Homo sapiens: one gene and its partners. The protein of the gene in region 4 purifies or fractionates together with the protein of the main gene of each other region. This does not show direct contact. Each region holds a gene or a part of one and is shown on either strand. Other genes may lie near its edges.

Region 1 (9,187 bases), on a different chromosome or scaffold from region 4:
TAGCCTGGGCAACAAGAGTGAAACTCCATCTCAAAAAGAAAACAAAACAAAACAAAACAAAACAAACTACAGCCATCTGTGAGGGAGTAGGCCCCTCGCCAGACATGGAATCTGCAGGCATCTTGATCTCAGACTTCCTAGCCTCCAGAATTGTAAGACATAAATTCTTGTTGTTTATAAGCCACCCGGTCTATAGTGTTTTGTTACAGCAGCCCAAATGGACTAAGACAGCAAAGATCACTGATTTAACCTGGAATTACAAGCCAGGATAGAGGTCAGGTTCTAGTAGGGTGGTCCCCAGCTAGGGGACCTGAACCTAGACCCTGCCTAATGACAGGAATGTGGGCCTGCTTTTCCCACTTTTTTGCTTAGACTACAAAACCCCTCCCTTTAGGACATGTCCTTCTCTGTTCATTTCATTGATTAATTGATTGATTGATTGAGACAGGGTCTGGCTTTGTTGCCCAGGCTGGAGTGCACTCGTGCAATTTCGGCTCACTGCAACCTCCACCTTCCAGGCTCAAGCCATCCTCCCACCTCAGTTTCCAGAGTAGCTGGGACTACAGGTGCTCACCACCGCGCACAGCTAATTTTTGTATTTTTTGCAGAAATGGGGTTTTGCCATGTTGCCCAGGCTGCTCCAAACTCCTGAGCTCAAGTGAATCGCCCGCCTCGGCCTCCCAAAGTGCTGGGATTACAGGTGTGAGCCACTGCACCCGGCCCTCCGTTCATTTTAGAATCCCATTCTCTTCATTTGGTTTGGACTGTCTCCTTGTCTTAATGATACACTGTTACCCAGGCGTATTAAAGAGGAATCTTTTTTTTTTTAAGAGGAATCTTTTTTGTTGAATGTGAAACATTCACTTGAGCTAGCTTAAAAAAAAGGCAGTAGGATATTCTCATTTATAAGTGGAGTTAAAGCCGGGCGCAGTGGTTCACGCCTGTAATCCCAGCACTTTGAGAGGCCAAGGTGGGTGGATCACAAGGTCAGGAGTTCAAGACAAGCCTGGTCAACATGAGGAAACCCCGTCTCTACTAAAAATACAAAAATTAGCTGGGCGTGGTGGCAGGTGCCTGTAATCCTAGCTACTCGGGAGGCTGAGGCAGGAGAATCGCTTGAACCTAGGAGGTGGAGGTTGCAGTGAGCCAAGATTGTGCCACTGCACTCCAGCCTGGGTGACAGAGCAAGACTCCGTCTTTAAAAAAAAAATGTGGAGTTAAAGAATGTGTATAATGTGCACACAGGGACATAGAATGTGAACTGATGGACATTGGAGACTTTGGAGCGGCGAGGGGTAGGGGGGCGGTCGGGGCATGGGGCGAGGGGAGGGATGAGAAATTACTTAATGGGTACAATGTACATTATTTGGGTGATGTTACACTAGAAGCCCAGACTTCACACTAAGCAATATATCCATGTATCAAAACTGCACTTGCACCCTCTAAATTTATACCAAAAAAAAAAAAGACAGGAGGGATTGATCTTAAGTCTGGAGGGGTATGCCTTGGAAGCCACAGGCAGGCGTGCACTTGGGCCTAGGTGTGCTAGAACCAGGGACTCAAAGCACCTTCAGGAGCCTCCATCTCTCCCCGCTGCTGCCCTCTGCATAACTGCCTCCTTTCTGTGAGCTCCCTGCAGCCTAGCCCTGTCTGGTTTCCCTTCCCAGGCCAAGAGGTAGAGCAGCCACCCGCTGCCACTCCTGTCAAGGACCAGCTGCTTTTGGGGCAGGGTGGGTGGTTCTAAAGATGACAGGTACTGCCGGTTCTGATTGTGGCAGAGGGAATGTTGGGTTGCAGGGAAGGGGAGAGGGGAACAGCCTGGAGATCCAGGCAGTGGTCCCCACGGAGGTGTGGACACAGAGCTGCAGGGGAAGGCCTCTCTCACCAGAACCCCTTAGTCTCCAAGATAATCAGAGGAAGCAAACTAATTGTTTTGGATCACCTATTAGATGCCAGGCACCATGCTAATCATCTTTCTTGTGATTTCCTTCCATTTTCACACATTAAAAAAAAAAAAAGACGAGAAAACAGGCCCAAAAGAGCTACATTACTTGCCCAAGGTTGCAGAGCTAGAAGTAGAGAGGCTGGAATTCAGCCCATGGATCATTCCACTCTACCACACTGTCCCTGGAACCTGGGTCAGAGCCACAGTCAGTATCAGTATCACTGAAAGTGCCTGTTATGACCTGGCCAGCCCAGTATCATCACAGGTGACTGTGGAAATGTCCCTGGTTCCAGAAAAACAGGATTTTCAAACATGGCTCATTGTATCCGCTCACTTGGATTCAGCTCAGCCCAAGATAAATATGGCCAGTATTGGTGGCTGATGAGCAGAGCCCCTTGACGGCAGAGGCAGGACCAGGTGAAGAGCCAGGCAACCTGGTCTCCTGAGATAGGTCAGCAGGTGGTGAGTCAGGGGGCTATAAACAGCCTGTGGCCCCAGCCAGCACTGCCCAGATACTCAGCTGATGAAACCCCTTGTAACCCCCTGTGTGCCCCTGCCTGGCTTGGGGAGGAGCATGTCAGCGCTCCTCGGGGAGGGGGCCCTACTTGGCAGGCCGGGCCCAGCATTGTGCACGGTCTGTTCCAGCCTGGCTGGCCAGGCCCAGGGCCTGGGCTCATGGGCTATATTGAGGGCTGAGTCACCAGCCCGCGCCTGGGTCAGGCTGAGTGTCACTGGCTGCTGGGGCCTGAGTCAGGCCCCGATTTATCCTGGAGAGCAACAGGCTCAGGTTTCTGAGGACGGTTGCGGGGGGTGACGGGAATCATCCTTTGGCACTCTGTACCCTCCTCTCCTCTGCCAACCATTCACTTGATCCCCTGGGACCCGCACACTGACCTCCCCTGGAGCGAGCTCTTGAGTCAGAGGGAAAGCAAGGGAAGCTACGCTGGGAGTTCCTTCTCCCCTCCCTGGCTTCCTCCGGCCTCTCCACCTGAACAGAGGCGCTCAGCTGGCTGGGGGACCTCAGATAATGCCTGCAAAACAGGACTGTGGACCATTAGGGTCTGTAAAGGGGCTGTCAGCTCCGAGCTACCTCACCTTAACCCTTTCTCCTCCCCAGCAGCTCAAAGAGGAATGCATCCTTTCTCAGATCTGTGTCTCAGTTTACTCACCAGGGATTCAGAGGCAGCACTGCTGAACCCTGAGCCCTTGGCACATCAGGTTGGCTGTCAGAAGTCGGCCTTTGTACATACACAGTTCCCTTGTGAGGCCCAGCTGCGTGTCCTAGGAGCGGGGCCTCTCTCCACAGCAGAGCTCAGCCTCTCAAGTGTATGGACAGCACGGGTGCCTGATGGGTGGATTTAGCCATGAGTTGAAGGTGGCTTGGGGAGAATGAGAGTTCTAGAGATAGGGAGAAGGGGTTGCCAATAGGAGAGTGGAATTCCTGAGCACCTCGTCACAGGCAGCCGACAGAACATGAGCCGCAGGGCCCAGGCTATTTATACCTCGCCTGTCACTATCAGGGTCCCCACAGCTCCCCCCACCTCCAGCCACACACAGCAGGTCCTTTTGCTCTTTCTGGTCCCTTCTCTACTCCTCCCCCTCCCTACCTAAGGACCAGGCAATTTCATTCATAGACCCCTGTCATCATAAGCATTGCCCCCACAGAACCCTGACACTTTTTCCTCAGCTCCGTAACAGGGGGTGCCCTCATTGGCCCTTGGGGGAAAGAGCCCCCAAAGATGCTCACTATCCCTTCTTTTACACCAGGTCTAGGGGTAGAAGAGGAATTAGATATAATGATTCATCTAAAAGGGCCCAGAACCTTCCCTGGCTTAAAGAAACTTCTCAGGCTCAGATATGGCCTCCTAGCCAGCTCAGCTAGACTTACTAGGTCTAGAAGGATGGGAAAGCTGAAGACACATGGCTTGAAAAAGGGGGAACTGGGAGATATGGCTGCACGTATGTTACAAAGTTGCAGAATGGATCCTCTCCTTATAGAAATACATTCTCTAGGCCCAGCACGGTGGCTCACGCCTGTAATCCCAGCACTTTGGGAGGCTGAGGCGTGCAGATCACCTGAGGTCGGGAGTTCGAGACCAGCCTGACCAACATGGAGAAACCCCGTTTCTACTAAAAATACAAAATTAGCTGGGCGTGGTGGTGCATGCCTGTAATCCCAGCTATTTGGGAGGCTAAGGCAGGAGAATTGCTTGAACCTGGGAGACAGAGGTTGCGGTGAGCAGAGATCATGCCATTGCACTCCAGCCTGGGTAACAAGAGCAAAACTCCATCTCAAAAAAAAAAAAAAAAAAAAAAGAAAAAAGAAAAAGAAATACGTTCTCTAGCTCTTTCTCCTCACCCCAGGCCAGAGTCTGTTTGGGTGCCTCGGTTTCCCTGCTGTTCTATTCCCCAGGCCTGCAGCCTTTGGCTTGCCCTGAGTGCAGCTTTGCCTGGGCATCCCAGCTGGCTCCCTTAGGCTCTCCCTGACCACTCTGCCCCTGGTCCTGCCTACCCACCTGGTCACATTTCCCCCTGGCTGCTCTGGCTGGGGCTCTCCCTGTTTCTGCCTGGCTGACCCACCCTTTCCCTGGCAGGATCTGCCCTGTGGCCCAAATGGGCATGTTGCCCAGGGGGCTCCCTGGCACTATGGGGGAAGAGTCTCTCCTTCCCCTCTTATCATCTCAGTTGAGTCAGACTTGGGGGAGGGGGATACACAGTGTGAGTCACTGGGTACCCTTTTCCTGAGCTCAGCTTCATACCGAGGCGATGAGGCCAAACGGGCTGGTGACAGGGACACTGAGTCAGGGGCAGGGGCCCCGGTCTTACTCCTGGGCCTCTGGATTTGGGCCCTACATGAGGCTTTTCTATCTGTAAAGTCAAGCAATGGCTGGGAGGCACACACAACCCCCCGCCCCCCCGCAGGCTTCTCCTTCATTGGCCCGGGCAAGGTCCCTGCTTCCTCTCAGGCCGTCTCTGCACAAGCACACACACTTCCCTTCCCTGTCCACAGGTGGACAATGCCCTGGGCTAGGAGCCAGCCCTCGCAGGCCCTGTCAACAGCCTGCCACCAACTAGTCTAGAAAATTCTGTGAACACCAGATCAGTGGGTTTTGCCCTAATCACTGGCCTCAGTTTCCCCATTTACCTCTTCAGCCCGTGCGGGGTGTGGAGGGAGCATATTTCATTCCTGACAGTTTGGTGTGTTGGGTGTGGATGGAGAACTGTCGGCCCTCCCCGCCACCTTCCAGCGCGGCGGCACCGGGGGCCCAGGGGGTGGGCGCCCTCAACCCCGTCCCGCCGCCCGGGCGGCGCGGGGGAGGGGCGGCGGGGGCGGGGCGTCCTGTGCGGCGCGGCCCCCACCCGCGGGCCGGGCGGCATTCCTGGGAGGCCGGCGCTCTGACGTGGACCCGGGGGCCGCGGGCGCGGCGGGGGGGCGGCGGTCCGGGGGCTTCTTAAACCCCCCGCCCCGGCCCAGCCCGCCCTTCCCGAGCACCGCTCCGGCCCTGGAGGGAGAGAGAGCCAGAGAGCGGCCGAGCGCCTAGGAGGCCCGCCGAGCCTCGCCGAGCCCCGCCAGCCCCGGCGCGAGAGAAGTTGGAGAGGAGAGCAGCGCAGCGCAGCGAGTCCCGTGGTCGCGCCCCAACAGCGCCCGACAGCCCCCGATAGCCCAAACCGCGGCCCTAGCCCCGGCCGCACCCCCAGCCCGCGCCAGCATGATGAACAACAGCGGCTACTCAGACGCCGGCCTCGGCCTGGGCGATGAGACAGACGAGATGCCGTCCACGGAGAAGGACCTGGCGGAGGACGCGCCGTGGAAGAAGATCCAGCAGAACACATTCACGCGCTGGTGCAATGAGCACCTCAAGTGCGTGGGCAAGCGCCTGACCGACCTGCAGCGCGACCTCAGCGACGGGCTCCGGCTCATCGCGCTGCTCGAGGTGCTCAGCCAGAAGCGCATGTACCGCAAGTTCCATCCGCGCCCCAACTTCCGCCAAATGAAGCTGGAGAACGTGTCCGTGGCCCTCGAGTTCCTCGAGCGCGAGCACATCAAGCTCGTGTCCATAGGTCAGTGCCGGGGGCGAGGGCACGGGCGCTGCGGGGATAGGGTCGTCCCATGGGGCAGGGGCACAGGTGCGGGGTGGGCGCGCGGGGAGCTGAGAGACAGGGCGGAGGGCACCCCCCGGTATAGAGAGAAGACCCTGGCCCCGGCCCTCCCACCCATCGACAAGGGCCATGGGCACTGCCTGCACACCCCTCTGGGGACAGCGAGCACTCCCTGGGTGCCCCGGGGAGTCCAGGCCTTAGGGTTTGCGAGCCCTCCAGCTGCCGCCTCCCCATGCACATTCCCACCTCCCGCCTCGGCTCACCGTTCCCTTTCCTTCCATCGGGCAACCCTAGCCCACACTCGGGAGGACAGAACCAGTGCCTGTCACTGATTCCTGGGGGCATCTCCCCGCCCCCAACAAAACAAGTGGCTTCCCAGCTTCACAGCCCCTCCGCGGGCTGGGAGAGGGCTGAAGACAGGTCCCCAACCACTGCCCGCGTCTGCGGGCTCTGGGGCCGAGGGGAGCTGGCGCGGGAGGCCCTCTTCGTGCATGTGCTCAGCAGCTGGGTTCAGGCCCGGGGGCCAGGACAGGCAGGGCCCAGCCTCAGAAACCTAAAAAGGCACTGAGCGAGCGCGGGGAGACTTAACCCCTGTCTGTCCTCCTCCTGCTTCAGCCTGCGGTGGAGGGGGCTTCCGCAAGTCCAGGCCCTGCCCCAGCCCACCCCCTACCGCGGGATTGGCTGCAGCTAACGGTCTGGGCTGCGGGGAGGGAGGGAAAGGCCTGTGGAAGGGAGGAAGTCTTTGAGTGTAACCAGATTTGGAAGGTGTGTAGTGCAGGGTGGGGGCGGGGAGGCACTCTAGTCTTGGGAGCAGAGACGCCAAGGGTGGGCTTGGAGTGGCAGGAGGCTGTCCTGCCCTCAGAGTCCTGCAGTCATCCCTGAGGCTGGGGGCCTGGGGAAGATCCCCCCGCCCACCCCTGTGGAGAGCTCTTAAGAACCCTGCTGGGATTTGCAGGACGAGGTCCTTGGACGGTGCACCCCACGGCCCCAGGAGGGGAGTTTCATGTGGGGCCAGGTGGGCCCCACACAGGATGTTCCCTGAGATTTCTCCAGATGACTTGATGTCTGTCAGCCCCACTCTCCCTTGGGGCCATCTCTAGGCCTCCTGATATAGCAGCTGAGGTCAGCCCAGGGCCCTTTGCCCCGTCCAGTCCCCTCCCTAGCCCTTACCCCCTCCTGCCCCAATACTGCCCCCCCACCCCACCCGCCTGCCCTGTCCTGGAAATAGCCCTGCCTCCGTGACACAGCAGATGTCTCTGAGCTTTCCAGAAGGACAAGGCTGAGGGCAGGGGGTGGGGGAGGGAGCCTGGAGTGTGTAGTGAGACTGAGGGCTACGTGATGGAGGCTGAGGGGTCAGAGAGGAGTCAGTCCTGGGCCGGCATCCTCAGCAGGCTGGGTTTTGAAAGGCAGGACTGACTGTACCAGGTGGGGTCTGGGGGAAGAGCCGGAGGCTTCGGCAAGACATATAGGAAACCGCTCAGCCTTCCCCTCCCCTCCAGTCTGCGGGGGCTCTCGGCCCCTCTCCAGGCCTCGTCCTTCCTGAGCACACCTCTCCCCTCCCCCGTGGCGGTGCCTGGCTCCAGCCCCCTTGGCTCAGCAGAGGAGGGGCTGGCTCAGAGCAGAGGGGAAGAAGCAAAAGCTGGTTTGAGGGTGGGAGGGAAGCTCCCTGGTTCCCGCTGGGAGGAAGGGGAGGCAGTCCCCATTTGGGCCAAGTGGCTCACTGGCGCTGATGAGATAAGCTGTCAGCAATTCAGCTGCCGGCCCCAGGCTGAGGCTGGAGGGGAGGGGACACCGGCAGCGACCAGCTGGGGCGCCCCACCATGAGGAGGTTCAAAGGGGCTGCCCACGAGGCAGGGGCATCCTGCTTCTGCTAGCTCCCCTACTCCATTTAGTGGTGGAAAGGGGCTATCCATGGGGCCACCTTCTGAGTATTGTCTCAGCACCGAAATCGAGCATCTGGGCACCTCAGGGGGTGTCAGAAAGACTCCCCACTTCTCTTTCCAGGAGGGAAGTCAGGGTCTGGAGTAGCAGCTGGGATCCAAGCCCACCTGAAGAAGGGGCACTGAGCCCAGGTTAAAGGAGCTGTGCCCTTCATATCCTCACCACCTTGTCCTGGCCCCCCGTTGCCCCTCGTTCCCTCCGAACAAAGAGGCCTATGAGGCAGCTCTGTCTCGCAGCTGTTCCCCAGTTGCTATTCCTTCTCCTGGAGCCAACAACCAAGGGAGGGGCGGGAGGGGGCAGCAGCTGTCCCAGCACCTCCCTAGGCCCAGCCCTCTCCTCCCCCTCCATTTGAGGCCTGGGGTGGCCTCGGGAACTAGCTGTCTGGCTCCTCCCACTCCTTTGGGGGTATCCCTAGGCAGATGGAGAAGTGGCTTGGTGAGCCCTGGTGGCGCTGAGCTCCTCTCCTCTGCCTGGCCTCCGAGAGGGAGGAGGGAGAGGGAGGTCATTGCTTCCAGAGTGGGACTTGGGGCCCCACTGCCCTTCTCCTGCCCCAAGCCTGGACCACTTGCTGTCTGGCCCAGGGCCAGTTGCTGGGGAGAAACTTCCCTCTCCAGCAAATATGAATGACCACCCTCCCCATATACACACCGCCCCCCCCAACCCCTGCAGCCTCAAGGCTTCCTGCCCAGGGGTCTGGCTCCAGTTTGCAAGAAGTACTTCTGGGCGTGTGAGCTTTGGAGGCTGTCGGGGTTGTGAGAGGCTGGGGGCACTGGGGCATCCAGACTGTGTGAAAGTGTTGGAGCCTGTGTGTTTGAGAGAAAGCACCGGGAGGCAGGGAGTGAGTGTGTCATGGAATCTGAAAGCTGCCAAACCATTGTGCTGCAGTGGAGCCAGGGGAAGGGGGTGGGCTGGGGAGCTGCTGGGGAAGGAAGGATGAATCAGTGACAGGGTGGGGGAGCCCAGGCGGCCAGAGCCCCAGCCAGAGGGACAGGGAGACTGAGGCACCCCTCCCGGGGCAGGTGGGAGTGGGGCAGGGGATGCCCTGGATTTCCCAGGCTCTCGGTCTCCTAACACTTTCCCCAAGACCTGGGGAAGGGTGGAGGGGAGAAGATGTGTAAGGGGAAGGCTCCACTCCACCCTCTCCCATCTCTCGGGCAACATCAGTAAACAAGACTGTCTTCCACCCCCTTCCAGCCTCCT
Region 2 (8,520 bases), on a different chromosome or scaffold from region 4:
CTTTTGACACAGATTACTTGCTATTGAAAAGGTGCATACCCCGTGACAAGAGGAAACATAGGCTTAAATTTATAAGAAGAAATTTAGTGAGGATAAATGCCAAGTCCTGTTCTTTATATCAGAAAATCAGTTACTTAGAAGTAACATGCTGATTTAAAAGCTGTTTATATATAAAAAAACACTGGAATTTTTTAGAGCACTCAAAAGTATGAACAATAATATGTTGTCTGACGTGTCATTAGTAAGAGCACACTGACAAGAATGCAGGGAGACCGGGCGCGGTGGCCCACGCCTTTAATCCCAACACCCTCTGAGGTCGAGACAGGCAGATCACTTGAGGTCAGGAGTTCGAGACCAGCCTGGCCAACATGGATGAAACCCCATCTCCACTAAAAATAAAAAAATTAGTCGGGCGTGGTGGTATGTGCAGGTAGTCCCAGCTACTCAGGAGGCTGAGGTGAGAGAATCACTTGAACCCGGGAGGCAGAGGTTACAGTGAGCTGAGATCGCGCCACTGCACTCCAGCCTGGGCGACAGAGCGAGACTTTGTCTCAAAAAAAAACAAAACAAACAAAAAAAAGATTTAGAAAGGAATTTGATACCTGTCTTCCAATATTTGAAAATACTGTAGGTAGAGAATAATTTAAAACCCCTTTTAGTAGGTCATTAAGTAAGATGCTTAGATTATCACTTTTGGGGGATGTTTTCAGGGCTGGAGAAGAGGACCTTCCTCAGTTAAAAACAGACAAAAAATTTACTCCTTATCCATTCTGCTTAATTGGGCTAAATGAAATCCTTCTATTTTTTTCAATAGAGCTAAAATTTTTAATCTTCAGTTCTCTAAATCCTTTTTAAAAATGTGGTTCCATCTTAAAATTAAATTACATTATTTTAAAAAATGTAGTTAGGAAGTTAAAATGTGATGTTAAAATATAATTATTAAAATATAACTAGTTCCAATCTAAAAAGAAATTATAAGATTGCATTATTGAATTTCAAAGACCATTTTCTGAAGACTTTTCCTTAAAACTTACTAAGATATTAAACCTGTATGTTTTATTCATATGCATTGATAGATATTTACATTCACAGGTATTGTATTTACAACTAACGATTTTTCAATTTACTACTGTAGATCATACCTCACTCCTGTTAGGGATGAAGAGTCTGAATCCCAAAGAAAAGCAAGATCTAGACAAGCAAGACAATCTAGAAGATCAACACAGGTATAGTTAATGTAATTAATATATAAAACTTACATAAGTAGCATATAAAATATATATACACACACTGACATAAAACAAGTTACCTTTCTCTTTTTCACTTTGTTGTGAAAATATTGATGTCAGTATATAGTGTGAGTAAATCCTTAAAAGGTAAAGGTTGCTGTAGTTATTCTAGTAATTCTAGTGTGAATAAATCCTTAAAAGGTAAAGGTTGCTCATAGCCTTTTGTATGGTTACACTGCTACTATTGTATTTCATCTAATTAGCATATGCCTTTGTGTCTTTTTGAGTATTTTTTAAATCCTTATTCCTAATACAGTGTCTGGCCCAGAGTATTTGGTTAGAATAAATTAATCATATGATGTCTAATAAGTATTTAAAAGTTCTATGAATATTTGGAAATCGGGGGCAGAGAATAGGCTCGTATATTAGGTATAAACAACTAATATGCAAGTATGAAGAAAATGTCATTCAGGCTGGCGATCTCCTTACCTCCGTTTTGCCATTCTGATTATGCTGTATATGATGTATACTTTTGTGTCTTTCTGCTTTCCCACAGTTAAGAAGCTCCACAGTCCAGATTCAGCTGTCTATCCTTACCATTACTTAGCTTTCAAGCTGAACTATTTGCTAGGGCCTTAATATACTTTTTCTGTCTTTATACTTTTCACTTCTTGAAATCTAACCTGTTCTTCAAGGTCAAATCTTGAAAAATTTATCGAAATCTCTTTTAAGCCTTAACAATCATCATGCATGTGTATATAGATACATATACACACATATATATACACACACACAGACATATATATAAACATAAATATTTATAATATACAAACAGTACAGATACTGGCTATTCTTCTCTAGTTTGAACTTGTGGGGAACATTTATATGCATAGAGTATCCAGTACCTATCGTTGTGCTTGCTAATGGTGATTCTTCATAGAATGAATGTAACTTGCTGTTTCCATTTGCAAACCAATTTTAAACATGCATATTTGACTTTTAATGCATTTGTATGTAATATATCTATTTCTAAAATATTCCTTGAAACAAGCTTTAATGCATCTCATAATTATATTGATCTTTTTGTGTGTGCAGGGAGTGACATTAACTGATCTTCAAGAAGCTGAGAAAACAATAGGAAGAAGTCGTTCTACCCGAACCAGAGAACAAGAAAATGAAGAAAAAGAAAAAGAGGAAAAAGAGAAACAAGATAAAGAGAAACAAGAAGAAAAGAAGGAGTCAGAAACATCTAGAGAAGATGAATATAAACAAAAGTACTCCAGAACGTATGATGAGGTAACAGTATATCAAAAGCACATTTAAGTCAAATGGTATGAATAGTCCTTATGATCCTTAACATACAAGAGATTTATATACCAACAAACCATATGCAAAATACTGTAAAGGATTTTAGCTGGAAATTTGAATTACTTTGGCGTGATTAGTATACTACTTTTTCTTTGAAATGAATTTTTAAGTATTTTTATGTTTTTAATTGTGTTTAATGTTTCAAATGGGTTTTGATCTTAATGTTTCACAGACTTACCAGCGTTATAGGCCAGTATCAACTTCAAGTTCAACCACTCCATCCTCTTCACTTTCTACTATGAGCAGTTCACTGTATGCTTCAAGTCAACTAAACAGGCCAAATAGTCTTGTAGGCATAACTTCTGCTTACTCCAGAGGAATAACAAAAGAAAATGAAAGAGGTAAGAATACCAAATTTTGAAAACACTTTGCTTTCTTCATATAATCCTTTGGATTAGGGTTTCCTAAATAATAATTCAACAGTAAAGGAACAGCATCCTAACTTGTGATTCATCGAACCTAAACAGAAAGAATATGAAGGTTGAGAATGAGAAAAGTAGAAAACAGAAATAGAATATGGCCTGCTGTTGATACTAATATTTTTATAACCTAATACTTCACAAAAATCTTCATGTCCACCTACAACGAAAAGTTAATATCGAACTGGTGGGTGACTATTTCTAGAAGCAGTTTACTAGTGTAGTACTTCTCAGATGCTTTAAGCTATTTCTTGCCTACTGTGTAGATCATATCATTTAAATGTTTTTTTGTGAAATTGTTGTAAACTAAAATTACTAACTACATGTAATGCTCTCACTAAAACACATTTTTATGCTTATTTCTTAAAAAATACATTTCTTTCTCAACTATATATTGGCATATTGATACTCATTACCATTTCCTATTATTTTATATAAACTTTCTATTTAAATTCTGAGTAATTCCTACTTTAAATCAGATATAAGTACTAAATATAGGCATTTCATATTTTAAAGCCTAAATCTTACAGTATTAGTCATGATAATATCAGTAGTAATGTAGAATAAACAGCAGAAAATAAAGTTTTTTCCCAATTTCCAGCTATATATTTTCTCATGTTGATCATTGAGATGTTTCAGTTCTTTAAACTTCTATGTGTGAGGCCTGCATTGTGTTTGTAAAAATGTTGAACCAACATTTAAAATTAGAGATACTCACTTCAAACTTCAGATTTTTGCCATTTCTTGAAAAGTTGGCTGACCTGGCAACACTGGATCTGAATTCTCACATACCAACAATTGGCTGGAGCTAAGTAGTAGCAGCTGCCTACCTTCCATCCCCCTAGATAGTCCCCTGGCCCATTTTACCCATTGTTTTTACAATTACCTTGCAAAATATTGTCAAGATATATTGCTATATTGTGGTTCATTGCAATCCTTAACAGAGGGAGAAAAAAGAGAAGAGGAGAAAGAAGGAGAAGATAAATCACAACCTAAATCAATCAGAGAACGACGACGACCAAGAGAGAAAAGAAGATCTACAGGAGTTTCATTTTGGACACAAGATGTGAGAACCTATTAAAATACATTATTTGATAGTATTCTTGATAGTATTCTTAATGTGTCCAAAAATACATACTAATAATTTCTTATATGCCTTAGATTTCATATTCCTTAAATCATCACTGTGTTTTCTGAGTTGTTAAATAAGAAAAATTATTTTTAAGGATAGTTAACTACTTAGATTGTTGGTACTACTTAAAAGGAGTGGTTCTGACCTAATTATGGAATAGAAATAATAATGTCTGAAGCTCAGAGTGCATGTATTGATTATTTTATAATAGGTAAACTGCTTCTTGTAAAAACATCTTTTAAGAATTTCTAAGGAGTCTATTTAATTTCATTTTCATAAATATCATTATAAGATCTACATTACAGATTACTTCCATCTCAAAGCATGCTAAATAGACACAGTGCTTTGCTTATCAAATTACAACAGTCTTGTAAAAATTAGTGTTTTCCTGGTCCTTGATTGTAGGCCTGACATTGCTATTCATTGATTTTGTTTCCATTTTCTAAAAAATAAACCTTTTATTGAAGTATGGCATGTTTAGAAACATAATTCATACATGTATAGCTTAATGGATTAGCACAATAGGAGCATATCTATGTAATCACCACTCAGAATGATGAATAAAAACAGCAGTGTAGATTGCCCCCATGTTCTCCCTCTCAATCCCTATCATCCTCATTTTCAAAGTCAGCTAGTATCCTGATTTCTAACACCGTAGTTAACTATGCCTGTTTTTGAAGAGCATATGACTAGAACTATAAATTTTATAACTGTTATGTTTATAAGATATATCTATGCTATTTTATGTAGCAGTACATTTACTTCTATTGTTATAAAAATATTTTTTAAAGAAAATTTCTAACTATTCTTTCACTGAAAGAACATGGAATCATCTGTCTTCCTGTTAAACTGACCCATCTCTCACTATATGTTCCTCTTTATCTCTAATATTATATCTGACCTTAAATTCTGCTTTTTTGAAAAGCTTCCTTTTGATTATCTTTGTATAATATATCTTTTCTGTTATTTTCAATTTATTTGTGTTTTTTTTAATAAACAACATATTTAGGTCAACTTTTTTCTGAACTTTTTTTTAATTGCAGTGTTTCAGTCCATTTTAATTTTACTTAATTACTAATTACTTAATTACATGAAACAAATAACATTGTCATTTGCAGTTTAAAATATATAAAGAGCTAAGGCATATGAAAACAATAGCACAAAAATATGGGAAAGTATTAAATGGAGTTGAAGAGTTTTAGTATCTTCGCATTGTCCATGCTGTGGACAAAATATATATTCAACTTGATGAATCAAGAGTGCATATGTCTATTTAAAAAAGTTTAAAAAGAGAGGGAAAATCATACATAAATGACAAAGAAGGGAAGAACAGATGGGGAAATCGGAAAATAGTTTTCTATTTTTCTTTTGATTTTTAATATAGAAAAGTTAAACATATACTTTATAGAAGTAACATAATAGTATAATGAGCCCTACCCCCAGTATTCATTTTTTCAGCTAAATTCCCACTCCATCTCCCAACTCCCATATTATTTAGAAGAAAATCCTAGACATCTCATTCTATCTACAAATGTCTCAATGTATATTCTGAGAGAGAAGGACTCCCAAAAATAATTTTAAAAAATAAATTTTGAAATTATTACTAAAATTTCCTAAAATATAAATTGGCAATCTGTTTTTAGAGTGATGAAAATGAACAAGAACAACAATCAGACACAGAAGAGGGATCCAATAAGAAAGAAACTCAGGTAAATACCATTACTTTTTGTATTGAGAAGTATTCATATTTTTTAATAATTACTTTTAAATTGCGTTTTATTATGTTTATTCATGCAAAGCAGTTATTGCATACTCTACCTACATGCTGGGTATGCAATATCAGTGTTTGCCTGGGGATCAGGATTAAAAGGACTGGGAAGGGTCACAAAATAATGTTTTGGAGGTGATGAAAATGTTCTGAGTCTTGATCCTAGCAGTGGTTTTATGGATATACAGAACTGCCAAAACTCACCAAATTGTACACTCTAAGTGGATGTAATTTAATGTATGTCATTTAACCTTCGGAGTTAAAAGAAAAAGCAAAAAAAGAAATAGTACCCTTGGCCAAAGGAAAATATCTAAAGGATAATCAGAAGTAGTGGAAATCCAGAAGTAGTAGGCTCAGATTTTATTTCTGTAGATTTTATTTCAAAGTTATGTTCTGGAGAATATAGGCATCTTTTAACTTTCTTTTACATATATTTAGAAATTTAGAGTCTCCAACAGATTTTTATGTTGAGAATCTAAAAGACATTTTTTTCCTCTCAGTACTGATGAAGGACCTAAAGCAAGTTTGAATGACAAGGCTGCACAGCCAGCAAGGGTTGAAAGTTCCCCCGACCCCCTTCCTGATTGTTTGGCTGTGTAGAAAGCTAAAAAATATTCAAAATATTTCTGTTCATATGAGGATAGAGCTGAACAACACGAGTCTAAACCTGGCACTGTCTAGCATGAAATAGCATTCTGGTCATATTAATATTATTTTCTTCATTTTGAGTTGAAGTTCCTTAATAGAGCTATTACATTTCTTTTTAGTCAGCAAGGATCTACAGTAATGTGAACAAAAGTTGGTTACCTGTGCTAGGTGACGGTGAACATTATTTTAGGGCCAAGTTTGCCTATTTTGACCCCACAATTTTATTTTATCTTTAGGTGGCCAGACAATGAGGAGTGAATTGGTTCTGAGGTTAAATTATTTGCAGGCCTAAAGCTTTAACTGTTACCTAAATTTTTTGGTTATCAGTTATCAGAACTCCCCAATTTACCTATGTCCCTTCTTTATTAAACAAGAGGGGAGGAAATTAGTAAACCATCCCCATCTGACACCTCTCATTGCCTTATCACGCAGACTCCAGCCCCCACCAGGCTGGAGTGGAAGGGAGATTGTCTGGCTTTTAAAGTTGTAATTTTGAAGCATATTGATGTATACTGTATTTTAAGTTTTACTGTTAAAATCATATGAGATACGTTAAGATGAAGAGGAACATTGTTTCTAAGACGAAAAGTTTTTTTATTTTCAATTTAAGTAGTTTTTGTTTACTTTAGATTGTTTAGAGTTCTTTTAAAGTAATGAATAACATATAAATAAATATAACAAATATAAATAACAATATGAAACCTAAGTCAAACTGGATTAAACAAAGAAAATGTATTGTACTCCAGTTATATTCTGCAGTCCTTTGTGTCAGCTTCATCCTCAGGCTGATGTACCTCATAGGGATAGGATTATAGTTGGCTTAGGATAGACAGGGCCTATCACTGAACTGTTGCAGCCATTTTGCTACCAACATGGGCCATGTGTCATCTCACCTAAACCTAGTAACTGCTATACCATGAGAAAAAGGAAGAATGGATGTAGATAAATAAATAAGGTGCAATGTATGTGCATAGATCAATATTTTCTATATTCACATAGATATTATGTGTCCAGAAAAGGTTGGTTAGATAACAGTGGTTATCTAGAGAATGGAGGGATGAGGAATTACACAGGAACTTTGTATACCATTATGTGAACTTTACAATACCATAGTCAGAAAGATATTTCTGAATATCTTTCTATATATTTTAATCTTTTTTATCTTTAAAAAGATATTTTTACTTTGGAAAATTAATCTTAAAATTTGGGGAACAAGGGCGTTATGCTAAATGAAATAAGCAAGTTACAAAAAGACAAGAACTGTGTGATTCCACTTATTTTATTTGGGTATCATAGAAACAGAAAGTAGAACCTTTGTTGCCAGAGCTAGGAAGAGGAGGACAAAGGAAGTTGTTCATTGGATATAGAGTTTTATTTTTGCAAGATGAAAAAGTTCTAGCGATCTTTTGCACAACAATATGAATATAATTAAAAATACTGAACTATATACTCTAAAAAATGGTTTACATGGTAAATTTTATATTACGTGGTTTTTACCACAATTCTTAAAAGTTTTTAAATAATGCTAGGCCGGGCATGGTGGCTCACACCTATAAGCCCAACACTCTGGGAGGCTGAGGTGGGAGGACTGCTTGAGCCCAGGAGTTCAAGACCAACCTGGGCAACATAGGGAGACACTGTCTCCACAGTAAATTTAAGAAATTAGTCGGATGTGATGGTGCATGCCTGTAGTCCCAGCTAACTAGGAGGCTGAGGCAGAAGGATCAGTTGGGCCAGGAGGTCGAGGCTGTAGTGAGCTGTGATCATATCACTGCACTCCAGCCTGGGAAACAGAGCGACACCTCATCTCAAAAATAGTAATAATAATCAGTGATAACACCATGATTTTTAAAGATAATGGAATTTGAGTGATTTCTCACTAGACTTTTTATTGTTAAAATTTAAATCAGTGAATGTAAGTGCAGACTATAAGGTAAGATGTATTATTTTTGTTTG
Region 3 (4,110 bases), on a different chromosome or scaffold from region 4:
AAGGATAAGCAGATGACCACAAAGCTGAAAATAATGTACAATCTCATTTATAGGATTCTACTTTCCAGTTTACCTGGCACGCACTAAGAAAAAGTTACTTATGACCTGCCCTACAAATCTTTCACATGGCTACACCTAACCAATATAATTTTTAAATTACTGAATTAGTGCATTTGGTGTATGGGGTCCGTCGTCCTATCTGTGGGCAGGTAAACACCTTGAGATGGCCATATACTCAGTCATCCCACAGATGCTGACTGAGTGCCTACAAAGTGTTGGATTCAGCTCTGTGCAACAAGCCAGCAGGAGCCCCAATATCTTAGCACTACAAGACAAGCTCCCAGAGTCTTCACCGGCTGGAAGAGCAAGCTGTGTATAGAAAAGAGGGTATCTATTGAAGGACATGAAAGAAACTGGTTAACCATCATTTGAGGGACTGGGGGTTAAGGGGGAGAGGAAAAATTACTTTTTACTCTTATCTTTTTGTGATTTGTAAATTGGTTCTCTTAACCACATGCATGACACATTTGAAAAACGTTTTCTACAAGAAAAACGGGTGGGAACAATTACATAGAAATACTCTAATCTCATGCAAAAAGTCCGCATTACCAACTGGGTTGACTAATGGGGGAAGTTTAGCCTAGCTATCAAAAAAACTCAGCTTCTACTCAGTCCTACTGAATAGAATTTCTGAGTAGAATCCTACAGATACTAACTCGACTTTTTCTGCTTCAATACTCTACCAGTGACACACTTGCACACACAAAACTATTCATTTCTGATGCTATGGTGGAGAGGGCTGCGAAACTGCCCCTCACACCTCCATGGCCCTTCTTCAAGAAGGGGAGGATCCACTCACACCTGAAAGCCACTTGGGATGTCTCAGAGGCCATTTTCATGTTGACAGTAACTTGTGAAGCAATTAATTATGTGTGGGAAGCAGATTTGCAGGGCAAGAGTTCTTAGCTAGCCCTCAGCTAACTCCTGAAGTTCAAGCTAGCTTTCGGCAAAAGCCCAAGACAAGGAATCATATCATCTACTACAACATTCTCACACGCCAAAACCAGTTTGCCTTCAAACTCATTTTACAGAACAGATGATTCTAAAGATCTATAAATTTTAATTGTATGTCACTGAATTCCTAACAGCACTTAACAGTTTCTTTGAAAAATTTCTTAACAGAACGTCAGAGTATTGCAACACTTTATTAAGAGTATTGGCTTTGAATCAGTAGCTGAAGTAACAATTGCATGAAGCCAGATTAGGTGCACTGCATAATACCCATACTCGATTTATTGACATTACTTAGCAATTTACTGGACAAAAGTCAAACTTTTTTGTTTTTTATTAAGCACATTCCACAGTACAAAGCTGTCATGAATAATATCTGTACAATTTAACAGTTTCAATAGCTGTTCAGACACAAATTTATTTCAAACAGATAATTGGCAAACATAATTAATTACAAGTTAGAATTAGACTATCCCAGTGCTTTAAAACATTAATATAGCAGTAATTTACATTTGCTCAGTTATGGTTAGCAAAATAAAGTCCAGAGTATGGCTGGGAATTACTATTATAATCCCAGAAAGTCAGAACTCCTTGGGTGCCAAAGTCCCCTGCTATAATTTAGTAGGCACAATTCAAAGGTTGTCTGCATATTCAAAGGCCATCATCTCCCAAGGAACGAGGGGAACTTCTATATTAAACATGCAAAAACAACAAAAAATCCATTCATTCATTCAGAATTGCCTCCTCCCCTGCCCCCTCCCTTCCCCCTGGGCTTTCCTAACCAGTTTGATATTGAAGCTGTAGGATGAAAAGTGGTCAAAGCTAAATCACTTTCACAACCACCATCAAGCTTACAACATCCACCTTATGAATGGAGGTTTATTGTTTACACTTTGAGACTCAACCTCTCAAAAACATAAATTAATTTAGTAACATGGGAAGGAAGGATTTTATTTTTAAAAGAAAAACTAAAAAAGCAAAGCCAACTCAATAAACAAATCACATACACACACACTGATCCCCACACCGTTCTCAATGCAAAGGACAAATCAGAGCCCAGGGCCTTCCCTTTAGTAGTAGAGTGTGCTTCCACGGGAAGAGGTTTACTTTATAGGAGGCTGTTTATTGGTCCTTTAAAATGTTATTGACATTCCTTGATCTTTGGAAACAATGGCGAAGGGCAAATCAAACCTAATATTGAATAAGGGAGAAGGAGTGCCAATTGGATGCCAACGTCCTTTCCATGCACTGTCAGGGCAACAGTGCCATTTACACATTTGGGCTGTGTCGTAGGGAGGACTTGGGAGCTTTGAGAACCTGCTGGGGCCACAGCAGCAGCTGACACCAGAGATGACTGGGGTGGCATTCATGGGCTTGAGGCTTCACTCCACTTCAGAGCACCCACCCCTCAGCATGGGCCTCTGAACCAGCCTGACCTGCCCTGCAGGCTCCAACACACCAGCAGGCCCTGCCAGAACCTTGGCAAGGCCAGGATGCATGAATTCCAGAGCCAAGACAGCCCGTCAACAGGGCCTTCTTATTTCCCCTTCCCAGGGCCACGACTGCACAGAATAATGATTTTTGACAGCGAAGCCAAATGAATACTATGGGAGGTGACCACTTGTACTCAGGAGTACTTATGAGAAAAAGAATAAGAACAAAAAATGTTTAAGGTACCTCTCTATTGTATAATATATACTCCACAACAAATAAAACATTTTGGTGTTAAACCTTAGAAATTACATTTTAAAACAAGATTCTCATTAAAAACACACACAAACCACACACACGCAATGACAACAACAAAATAAAAACACTGTATGAATACTGCAGGAAGGGTTCTAGGTAATCCACATCAACCCAGGTATCAGGTTCTTGAGCCCAGCCCATGGCTAAGTGCGAACACACTCTGTATTAGTGTCTCAAGCACAGGGGGCCCTGACTCCAGCAACTTTGAGGTTAAACTGTTATGTACATTATATCTACATGCGAATACAGTATTTTAAATTAGGAGGCAAGCACACGTATAAAGGTGTTACTCTACCAAATATCAGGAGATGGTTGGGGGACAGAGAACAGTTAATAAAAGAAAGAGCTATATTACCTGTTGGTAGATAATATAACTGACTTATAGTTCTTTAAATTAAAAGAAATTGGTACAGAAAGGAAGTATAATCCCAAAAATATTACTAAAACAATCCAGAGAAAATTTTCCACTGTCCAACATGTTCCTAATACAACAAGTCAGAATTCATAATGACTTGGACGGTCAAAAGGAGAATGCTAACTTTTGAAAATGAAAGCCCTGGACATTCTGGGTAGGTGTTTGGCACCCAAAATTTCACTGAAGAAGAATGCTGTTTCTTAATATCAAACCAAAGTGCAAAGCAATATAAATTAGAGGCCAAGTCTTCTCTTGACGGTCGATTTACTTCTGTAAAACAGATTCTATGTTCCTTTTCTATGAACAATTTACATTTGAAACATTAGATTTTTTCACTGATGAGGGAAGGAAACGGGCTTCTGTTCTACTTGAAGCCGGGGAAGCTAAGGTCTCCTTCTCAAAGGAGAGCCGGAATCAGAGGTGAGAAATGTCGGTACTTGAAGAGTTAGGCTGCTTTGCATCTACCCAGCGTCTAGAACCAATTCCAGCTTCATAACTCAGCTGTGAACGAACTCCCTTAGGCATTTGGTAGCCACGTAGCCAGTAGTTCAAGACTAGAAAACCCTGAGGAAAGAAAAACAGAAGCAAAGGGAGTGTGGGTGAACATTCCGTTTAGATGAGAATACACACACTCCACTCCACCCCCTGCACACAGCTACATGCAAAACTTATTAGCATTAACAGCAGAAGCTGTAAGTTGTTCTGAGTGTACTACATACCAGGTATCACATTTATTTCAACCTCACAACAATCCTGTGAGGAAGAAACTATTATGACACCTGCTTCACAAATAAGAGAACTAAGGCTCAGAAAGGCTAAGTGTTTGGTTCAAAGAGTCAACAAGTGACAGAGAGGGGATTCAAGGAGAGGGCTGACCCTATAACCTATCACTCTCTCAGTACTGCTCTGAAAAAGTACACATATAACAAAAGATG
Region 4 (8,520 bases):
TCTAACCTCTCTGGGTCCCAGTTTCTTCACCTGTAAAGGGTATTGATGATGCTTTTTGTGCCCACCTCCCAAGGTTGTTGTGAGGGTCAGTTCATTTACTAATGCAACAAGGAGTTATTCTGTGCCTACTGTGCTCAGCATCAAGAATTCAGTGGTGAGCAAAACTGGCTGGTCCTTGTCCTCATGGTGCAGATTGGCACGTTTGCTTTATAATTCATAACGCATCAGCCTTGCAAATGCAGGTTTTTACCTTCCTTGTCTATCTGTAGACTATGAATAAGGAGGTGACTTGTCGATATTCCTTCCTGCTGCATGGACCATGTGCACTCAGCTCAGGTGAGATCTTTTTCTAGAGAAAGTGCTCTCCAGCCTCTCTGCCACCTACACTGGTGAAGGATGGAGTGGCTTCTATGGGTGTACTCTGTGGCCTTTATAGCAGCTACAGGCAAACCACCAGGACCAGGGCCCCCAGAGTGTCCTCTGCCAAACCTTTCTCCTCACTCTCATGCCTTCTCTTCCCAGGTGGCCATCAAGTCAATCCGGAAGGACAAAATCAAAGATGAGCAAGATCTGATGCACATACGGAGGGAGATTGAGATCATGTCATCACTCAACCACCCTCACATCATTGCCATCCATGAAGGTACAGTGGGCACTTAAAGCTGGAACTTGGGGGTCTATGTGTGTGCATGTGTGTGTTCACATGCGTATGTACATGTGTCAGAAGAAACAACATAAAGAAGTAAAAAAAATATAGGCTCTAGAGAAGAGCAGGAGCTGGATTTGAAACTCAGCTGTATGACTTTGCACAACTCATTGAATTTAGTCTCTGGGCCTCAGTTCCTCATTTATAAAATGGGGTAATCCCATCTACATCACAGTGTGGTTGCAAAGATCAAACTGTTTATGTCATTGAATGCTCCACTCATGGGAGGTACTCAAGGAATTGCAGGTTTTTTTGTTGTTATAATTCGGTTTTCCCTACTTGAACACTACCTTCCCAACCCAGTGAGCTCCTTAGCAATCTGGGGGAGGCTGAAACATACATAGACCTGCACCTGTCTCAGGTGCGTGGGTGCTATTCTTCATGCGTCCCAAGAGCCAGACCTCCTAGAGTCTGACCTGGGCTCTGAATCATTCCTGCCACAGGGCTGGCTCCTACCTCTCCTTGTCTTTCTTGGCCTCCTCTTCTCTGACATCAGTGCTGATTTCACCACTCCAGCTGCCCTCCTCCCCATGACCCAGACAACAAAGTGAGCAAGAGAGGGTGACGAAGGAAAGATGGGGAGCCCTCTCTTACACACACCTGTCTGCGTCGAGACTTTACATAATATCAGTTAGATGAGAAGCGAGGGATAGCAACAGGAGGGAAGAAAGGGAGACTGTAACTCTGCCCTTTGTCTGTATATTCCTGGTGGGGAAAAAAATAGAGCAGTCTCTGCTCTTGGGTCGTGTTCATAGAAAGATTAAGGGTAGAGCCTTAAGGGTAGAGCCTTAAGACATAGCCCTGTGGCTTAAGCCTGTCCCATGAAGAGCCAGGCAAGTGGCTGAGAAGGCTAATTTTATCTCTGTGTGTGCTTCCCTCAGGGAAGAGTGGGGAGACAACAAAGTATTGGTTAAGCCAGGCTGAGTGTGGTGATTGGGGTGTGTGTGTGTATATATATGTGTGTGTGTGTATATGAATTCTGCCTTACACCCATATCTCCAGCTAGGCTGAGTGTGGTGATTGGTGTGTGTGTGTCTGCATGTGTGTGCGTGTGCATGTGTGTGTGAATTGTGCCTTACACTCATATCTCCAACTGGATCTGGGAACTGAGCACTGCAGCTCAGGGTATGGCTTCTCTGGCACCTTCAGATTCAACAGACATAAGAACATCATAGTTACTGTGTGTCTGGAGGGGCTCCCCCAAATTCATCCCCTTCCTGCTACTGGCTTCAAGGGATGTGAGGTAGCGGGTGTGCCTCAGTCCTGGGAAATGACATCTAACCTAGCTGTTCTCCAAAATGTGCCCTGGCTGGCTTTTGACTCCCGATTTTATGGCACAAAGGCTGCATGCACCCTTGCAGAGATGATGAGAGCCATAGGGGTGGAGTCTCAGCCAGGCATCCCCAGGAGGCTGGGCCTCCACAGATAAGGGCCATTTATTCCTGTCCCCCTGGACAAAAGGACAGTCCTCCTGGCCATGTATCCAATTCCCTGGAAGCTGGGACTCCTCTAGGGAGAAGGCTCTTCACTTCACTCCTTCTCAGAGCCTAGACAGCATTAGCTCTGGGGCAGGCCAAGCAAGCCAAACTCATAGGACCCGTTTGACACAAAGATGCAATGTCAGGGACATACATGTTCTAATACACACCAGGCAGAAGGGCCAGTTTGGTGAACCAGCCACTCCCTACCTAGTCTTCAAGTGGCAAGAGGGCCACTCCTACCCAGAGAGATGAGCCAGCTGGGATGAGGTGGCTGCCAGGAACCCAGCCAGTCAATTAATTACCAAATATGTATTGATTGCTTCTGTGTACAAGGCCTTATGCATGAGGCCCTGCCCTGGATCCTCTGGATGGAAGTCAGAGATGGTGATGGATATCTCAGCTCTCCCTGGTGCTTTATAGTTCATGATCCACTTTAATATACTTTTATTCCCTCTTCTGATCCTCAAGACAGACATTATTATTGGCCTTATTTTTCAAATGTATGCATGAGGGCACTGATTATAAACATAACTGTGGCCAGGCGCGGTGGCTCACGCCTGTAATCCCAGCACTTTGGGAGGCCGAGGCGGGCTGATCACATGGTCAGGAGTTCAAGACCAGCCTGGCCAACATGGTGAAACCCCGTCTCTACTAAAAAATACAAAAATTAGCCTGGCATGGTGGCGCGCACCTTTAATCCCTGCTACTCGAGAGGGTGAGGCAGGAGAATCGCTTGAGCCTGGGAGGTGGAGGTTGCAGTGAGCCGAGACCACGCCACTGCACTCCAGCCTAGGTGACAGAGCGAGACTCTGTCTCAATAAATAAAGAAATAACTGTAGGTACCATTTATCGAGTGCTTGTTTATATGTCAGACCTATACCAGCTTGCTCAGCCAGCCCTGGAACTGCTGTTGACTTTTTATATTTCTCACCCCAGCCCTGTGAGGTTGCCTTATTATCCTGCTTTTCAAATGAGGAAACTGAGGCACAGTGGTTTAATGACTTGTCCAAGATCACCCAGCAAACCTGCATTCTTACTCATGTATCTAGAAGAGATTTGCCCAAGGCCACAAGGTGAAAAAGTACCAGGTTCTTGAACCAAGGAGCCTGGCCTTTCATTCCCATCTAGTGACGTCTCTGCCTTCCTGAAAGGGCAGGGTCATTTTCAGAATTCCCAAAAGCCTGAACTTCCACGGAGGCAGAGGATGAGCCAGTGTCTTTGGCCTTAACTCATGGCTCCTGGAAGATGCTGAGAACTTCCAAGGCCCTTCTTCTGCCCTTATTTGCCACCGTATAGCCCCATTAGCAGATATTCCTGGAGGGGGGTCCTGTCTGGTTTGGGGCCTGGGGTCGGGGAGGAGTGAGTCACCCCCAGTGGAGAGCAGTGCACTCTGGGAGGGCCTGACGTTCCTTGCCTTGCTCTGCCCAGTGTTTGAGAACAGCAGCAAGATCGTGATCGTCATGGAGTATGCCAGCCGGGGCGACCTTTATGACTACATCAGCGAGCGGCAGCAGCTCAGTGAGCGCGAAGCTAGGCATTTCTTCCGGCAGATCGTCTCTGCCGTGCACTATTGCCATCAGGTGAGCACCTACCTGCTCCAGCCATATTCTCAGTGGGTGGTCCCCAGGGCTCTAGGGCTGTTTTGGACCAGAGAGGTTCCATGACTTGTCCAGGATCACACAGAAACAGAGGCAAAACTAGATTCTGGACTCTCAGGGAAATGTCAGTGTCTCTGACTTTGAGTCCCTTCTCCGCGGATAGAAGGGCCCGTGATTTCTTGCAGCACATACCGATAAAGATAGGCATTCCCAGCCTACCTGTGCTCAAGCCCACTTGGCTCCCTTTGTGTTTACCTCAGTCTCCAGACTGGGCCCCTCATCATCTTCCCTTCCCTGGTGACCTTCCCGTGACTGCCCTCTCCTTCTTTCAGAACAGAGTTGTCCACCGAGATCTCAAGCTGGAGAACATCCTCTTGGATGCCAATGGGAATATCAAGGTGAGTCCCACTTCTTATTTCTAGAAGCCTCCTTGCCCACCCCAGCTTTTCTGCACTGTCCCCAGCCAAGTAGCTCTAAGCTCTTGGTGGATTCCTGAAGGAGCTGAGCAAGGCTGACCTTCATTGGTACTGGTAGGGACCTCAGCCATCATCCATTCCAACACCTCATTGTGTGGATGGAGAGCTGGAGCCTCAGCTGAGGGGTGCTTTGCACAAGATCACACAACTAGCACGTGGCTGAGCCTGGACTAGAACCAAGATCTTCTGATTCCCAGATGAGTGCTCCTTTGATGTCATAAGGCTGACAGGAGTCTAGATCTAAGGTCAGGTTTGCTACAACCTTGGGACAGGCCCGGCCTGAGTTCTTCTCATGTATGTACACACTTGCATACACACACACATGCATGCTTTAATCTGGTACAATTAGATAGCCCTTTGGAAACTTCCCACAGATGAAGGACTCCAGCTCCAGCTTCCTGCTTTCTGCAGCTGCTAGATTTCCATGCTTAAGTAGTTAAATTTAGGCATGGAGAAGTTCATGTTGATGGGATAAACTGAGATCTCAGGGCTGGAGGAAGGACATGGCACAGGGAGGCTGGCCCCTGCAGGCATCTGGGAAGGTGACGCTGCACTCTGACCCTCTTCAGAATCTTCCTGAACCCAGGACATAGTCTCTTCCAGTGGCTTTTGACCTGTACCCTGAGGTGCCCTGGTACTGAGTTCATTCCCTCTTACCAGCCAATTCCCGGAGCAGGTGGGGCTTTCTTTGATGCTGAGCAGAAGGGAGGGAAGCCAGAGCCAGTAAACCCGCATAATCAGGCACAAACATGGACAGGCATGAACTTTCCTATCTGCACCAATCATGTGCTTCATTATGGGCTTCAACTGGTAACTGCTTGATAAGAGGCCAATAAAACCATAAACAAAGGAGCCAGAGTTTCATAAACAGCCCCTCCCCACCCTGAATACACATAACCCTCTGATGTGGTGAAGAGGTGGGGAGCACCAGGGCATGGCCTCAGCCTCTAACTGAGGATAGGTGGGAAAGGGTCTCTCCGGGCAACGAGACGATGGGGTTGGGTTCTCAAGCCCTCAATATCAGATGGTTCAGGGAGTCTTGGGCTGTAACCACAGCCCTGATGTTTGTTCTGCCCTCATTATTGCTTCTTAGCTATATTGGGCTGACCCCAGGTTCCTGCCACCAAGTTCTTGCCCCGGTGTGCACACAGGAATGAGCCCTTTGCTAGGAAGGGCAGCTCAAGTCTTACGTGGTTCATTGGTTATAGGGCTTGCTTGTTCCTGAGGGCCATGCCATTATCATGAGGTGCTGGCTTTCCCCCTCCATCTGGCTGACCCTCCTTTCCATCACTAAACATCATTAGAGCCTCATGCAGGGTCTCACCTGGGCTAGCAGCTGCAGGAGAGGTGGGGGCAAGGAGGTCAGCATGGGAGTGTACAGTCTGTCTGGAAGGCAGATCTAATGAGCAGGGGCTCCAGGGAGGCATTGGAAACTCTAGGCTTCTAGAAGGAGATGGGAGACTTTCCAAGGGATATGGGCATGAGACAGCATCTCTGTAGTGGAATGCCATGTGAGCAAAGTGGTCTGGGGAGCAGTGAGGATCCTGGAGCCCCCGCAAAGCTCTGTCTAGATGCTCCTTATTGACACAGCTCCTCAGGGTTCGTTCTTCCAGGGCCTGAGCTATGCTGACAGTGCTCAGTGTGGGGTAAGGGTCATGGGGACCCTTTCCTTCTATTGGAGCTTGGGTTTCCCCAGGGTCTGGAGAAGGGCGGGCCAAGAGCTGCAGAAAAACCCAGGCCTTGACATGACCTGTGCCCGTGTTTGACTCAATCCTGCAGATTGCTGACTTCGGTCTCTCCAACCTCTACCATCAAGGCAAGTTCCTGCAGACATTCTGTGGGAGCCCCCTCTATGCCTCGCCAGAGATTGTCAATGGGAAGCCCTACACAGGCCCAGAGGTAAGTGGCCACCCTCCCCTGCCAGCCTGCCTCAGATGTTTACTATGACTTTAGATCCTGGGAGATTGATGGGCTAGTTTTCTCGTTATTCACATTTTCAGAGCACAACTCTCAAGCCTCCCAAAAAGTAGTAACTTGCCAGGTGTCTAGCCAGGAATGGCAAAACTAGAACTAGGCCGGGCACAGTGGCTCACACCTATAATCCCAGCACTTTGGGAGGCCGAGGTGGGTGGATCACTTGAGGTCAGGAGTTCGAGACTAGCCTGGCCAATGTGGTGAAACCCCATCTTTACTTAAAAAAATATAAAATTAATGGGGCTTTGTGGCACCCACCTGTAATCCCAGTTACTTGGGAGGCTGAGGCAGGAGAATCACTTGAACCTGGGAGGCAGAGGTTGCAGTGAGCCAGGATCATGCCACTGCACTCCAGTCTGGGCAACAGAGCAAGACTCCATCTCAAACAAACAAACAAACAAAAACCAAAAAAACCCCTAGAACTAGAACTTAGGTCTCCTGACTCCTAGGTTAGTTCTTTGCCTCCCTCACATTCCTCATTCCTGTTACCTTTCCCAGCACCCAGTCCAGCCTCCTGAGAGTGATGTAGAGATGATATCTGTCACAACCACCCCTTCCCCAGCCCGGAAGAGATGACCTGGCTGTAGCTCTTGTGCTTGTGGCTGTCCCTCGCAGGAAATGCGATTGACAACATCTCAGACCCCTTCTGCAGCATCCCCGTCTTGGCCCCTGGGTAGGAGAGGTGGGTCGTCCTCAGGTGTGCTGGCCTCTGAGTTCTCCAGCATGTAACATTTTCCTGTCTGGTATGGGCATCCCTGCTGACCTCCCCCATCTCTCTCAGGTGGACAGCTGGTCCCTGGGTGTTCTCCTCTACATCCTGGTGCATGGCACCATGCCCTTTGATGGGCATGACCATAAGATCCTAGTGAAACAGATCAGCAACGGGGCCTACCGGGAGCCACCTAAACCCTCTGGTGAGTAAGAGGTGTGGGCGTTCTTATCCAGGCCTGGGGTGTCCTTCACTCATTCCTAAGGCAGAAACTACACAGTGGCACTAAAGTCAAACGGGCAACAGTCCATCATGGCCCATGGTAGGTTAGGGTACCCTCCACCGTATGTCCAATGTTGAGACCTCTGGGGAAGGAGGGGATAGCTCTTTCTTTCCCACAGGGGCATGTTTGATTATATTTGGGAAGTGGTTCCTAAGGTCTCACTTAGATCTTCTTTGCTACAGTTGTCTCATTTCCTATTGCTTTTGTTCTCATCTTCAGAAATCTTTTTGTCCTTCACTATGACTCAGAAGGCAGGAAGAAGGGTGTGAGAGACCCAGTTTACCCTGAACACAGTCTCTACCCTCAGAGGGTTGAATTTCAATGGAGAGAGAGAGGATAGACACCAACATACACACAAGGGCTTATGAAGGGGTCACAGTCCTGAGGGGTCAGAGGACAGAGAGGCAGCTGGAGGAGTCAGTCCAGGAACTCTGGACTGGGGAGCTGTCCTGGGCCAAGGCATGTATAGAGCCCTAGGTTGGAAGGGACGCATCCGACCCAGGAGTATGCAGTGTCATAGCTCAAAAGGGGATGAGCTGGGGACAGGGGACAGGGAGTGCCTATTCTGGGAGCTGCCAAACTGAAGCACCTGCCTTTTGTCTTCCAGATGCCTGTGGCCTGATCCGGTGGCTGTTGATGGTGAACCCCACCCGCCGGGCCACCCTGGAGGATGTGGCCAGTCACTGGTGGGTCAACTGGGGCTACGCCACCCGAGTGGGAGAGCAGGAGGCTCCGCATGAGGGTGGGCACCCTGGCAGTGACTCTGCCCGCGCCTCCATGGCTGACTGGCTCCGGCGTTCCTCCCGCCCCCTCCTGGAGAATGGGGCCAAGGTGTGCAGCTTCTTCAAGCAGCATGCACCTGGTGGGGGAAGCACCACCCCTGGCCTGGAGCGCCAGCATTCGCTCAAGAAGTCCCGCAAGGAGAATGACATGGCCCAGTCTCTCCACAGTGACACGGCTGATGACACTGCCCATCGCCCTGGCAAGAGCAACCTCAAGCTGCCAAAGGGCATTCTCAAGAAGAAGGTGTCAGCCTCTGCAGAAGGGGTACAGGAGGACCCTCCGGAGCTCAGCCCAATCCCTGCGAGCCCAGGGCAGGCTGCCCCCCTGCTCCCCAAGAAGGGCATTCTCAAGAAGCCCCGACAGCGCGAGTCTGGCTACTACTCCTCTCCCGAGCCCAGTGAATCTGGGGAGCTCTTGGACGCAGGCGACGTGTTTGTGAGTGGGGATCCCAAGGAGCAGAAGCCTCCGCAAGCTTCAGGGCTGCTCCTCCATCGCAAAGGCATCCTCAAA

The links.
Region 1: the proteins of NUAK2 (region 4) and FLNC purify together in Homo sapiens (affinity purification with mass spectrometry; 2 studies listed by BioGRID and IntAct, with this or other methods). This does not show direct contact.
Region 2: the proteins of NUAK2 (region 4) and PPP1R12A purify together in Homo sapiens (affinity purification with mass spectrometry; 4 studies listed by BioGRID and IntAct, with this or other methods). This does not show direct contact.
Region 3: the proteins of NUAK2 (region 4) and FBXW11 purify together in Homo sapiens (co-immunoprecipitation; 4 studies listed by BioGRID and IntAct, with this or other methods). This does not show direct contact.

The regions. Positions count from the first base shown.
Region 1 is NC_000007.14:128,824,983-128,834,169, forward strand, and holds the start of FLNC (filamin-C), read left to right. Parts: upstream 1-5,423; 5' UTR 5,424-5,655; coding exon 5,656-6,007; intron 6,008-9,187.
Region 2 is NC_000012.12:79,791,200-79,799,719, reverse strand, and holds part of PPP1R12A (protein phosphatase 1 regulatory subunit 12A), read left to right. Parts: intron 1-1,135; coding exon 1,136-1,226; intron 1,227-2,324; coding exon 2,325-2,525; intron 2,526-2,769; coding exon 2,770-2,938; intron 2,939-3,960; coding exon 3,961-4,082; intron 4,083-5,791; coding exon 5,792-5,857; intron 5,858-8,520. UniProt on the Homo sapiens protein: Key regulator of protein phosphatase 1C (PPP1C). Mediates binding to myosin. As part of the PPP1C complex, involved in dephosphorylation of PLK1. Capable of inhibiting HIF1AN-dependent suppression of HIF1A activity.
Region 3 is NC_000005.10:171,860,363-171,864,472, forward strand, and holds the end of FBXW11 (F-box/WD repeat-containing protein 11), read right to left. Parts: intron 3,740-4,110; 3' UTR 1,187-3,739; downstream 1-1,186.
Region 4 is NC_000001.11:205,303,828-205,312,347, reverse strand, and holds part of NUAK2 (NUAK family SNF1-like kinase 2), read left to right. Parts: intron 1-522; coding exon 523-643; intron 644-3,615; coding exon 3,616-3,767; intron 3,768-4,117; coding exon 4,118-4,183; intron 4,184-6,040; coding exon 6,041-6,160; intron 6,161-6,808; exon of another isoform or gene 6,809-6,917; intron 6,918-7,016; coding exon 7,017-7,149; intron 7,150-7,834; coding exon 7,835-8,520. UniProt on the Homo sapiens protein: Stress-activated kinase involved in tolerance to glucose starvation. Induces cell-cell detachment by increasing F-actin conversion to G-actin. Expression is induced by CD95 or TNF-alpha, via NF-kappa-B.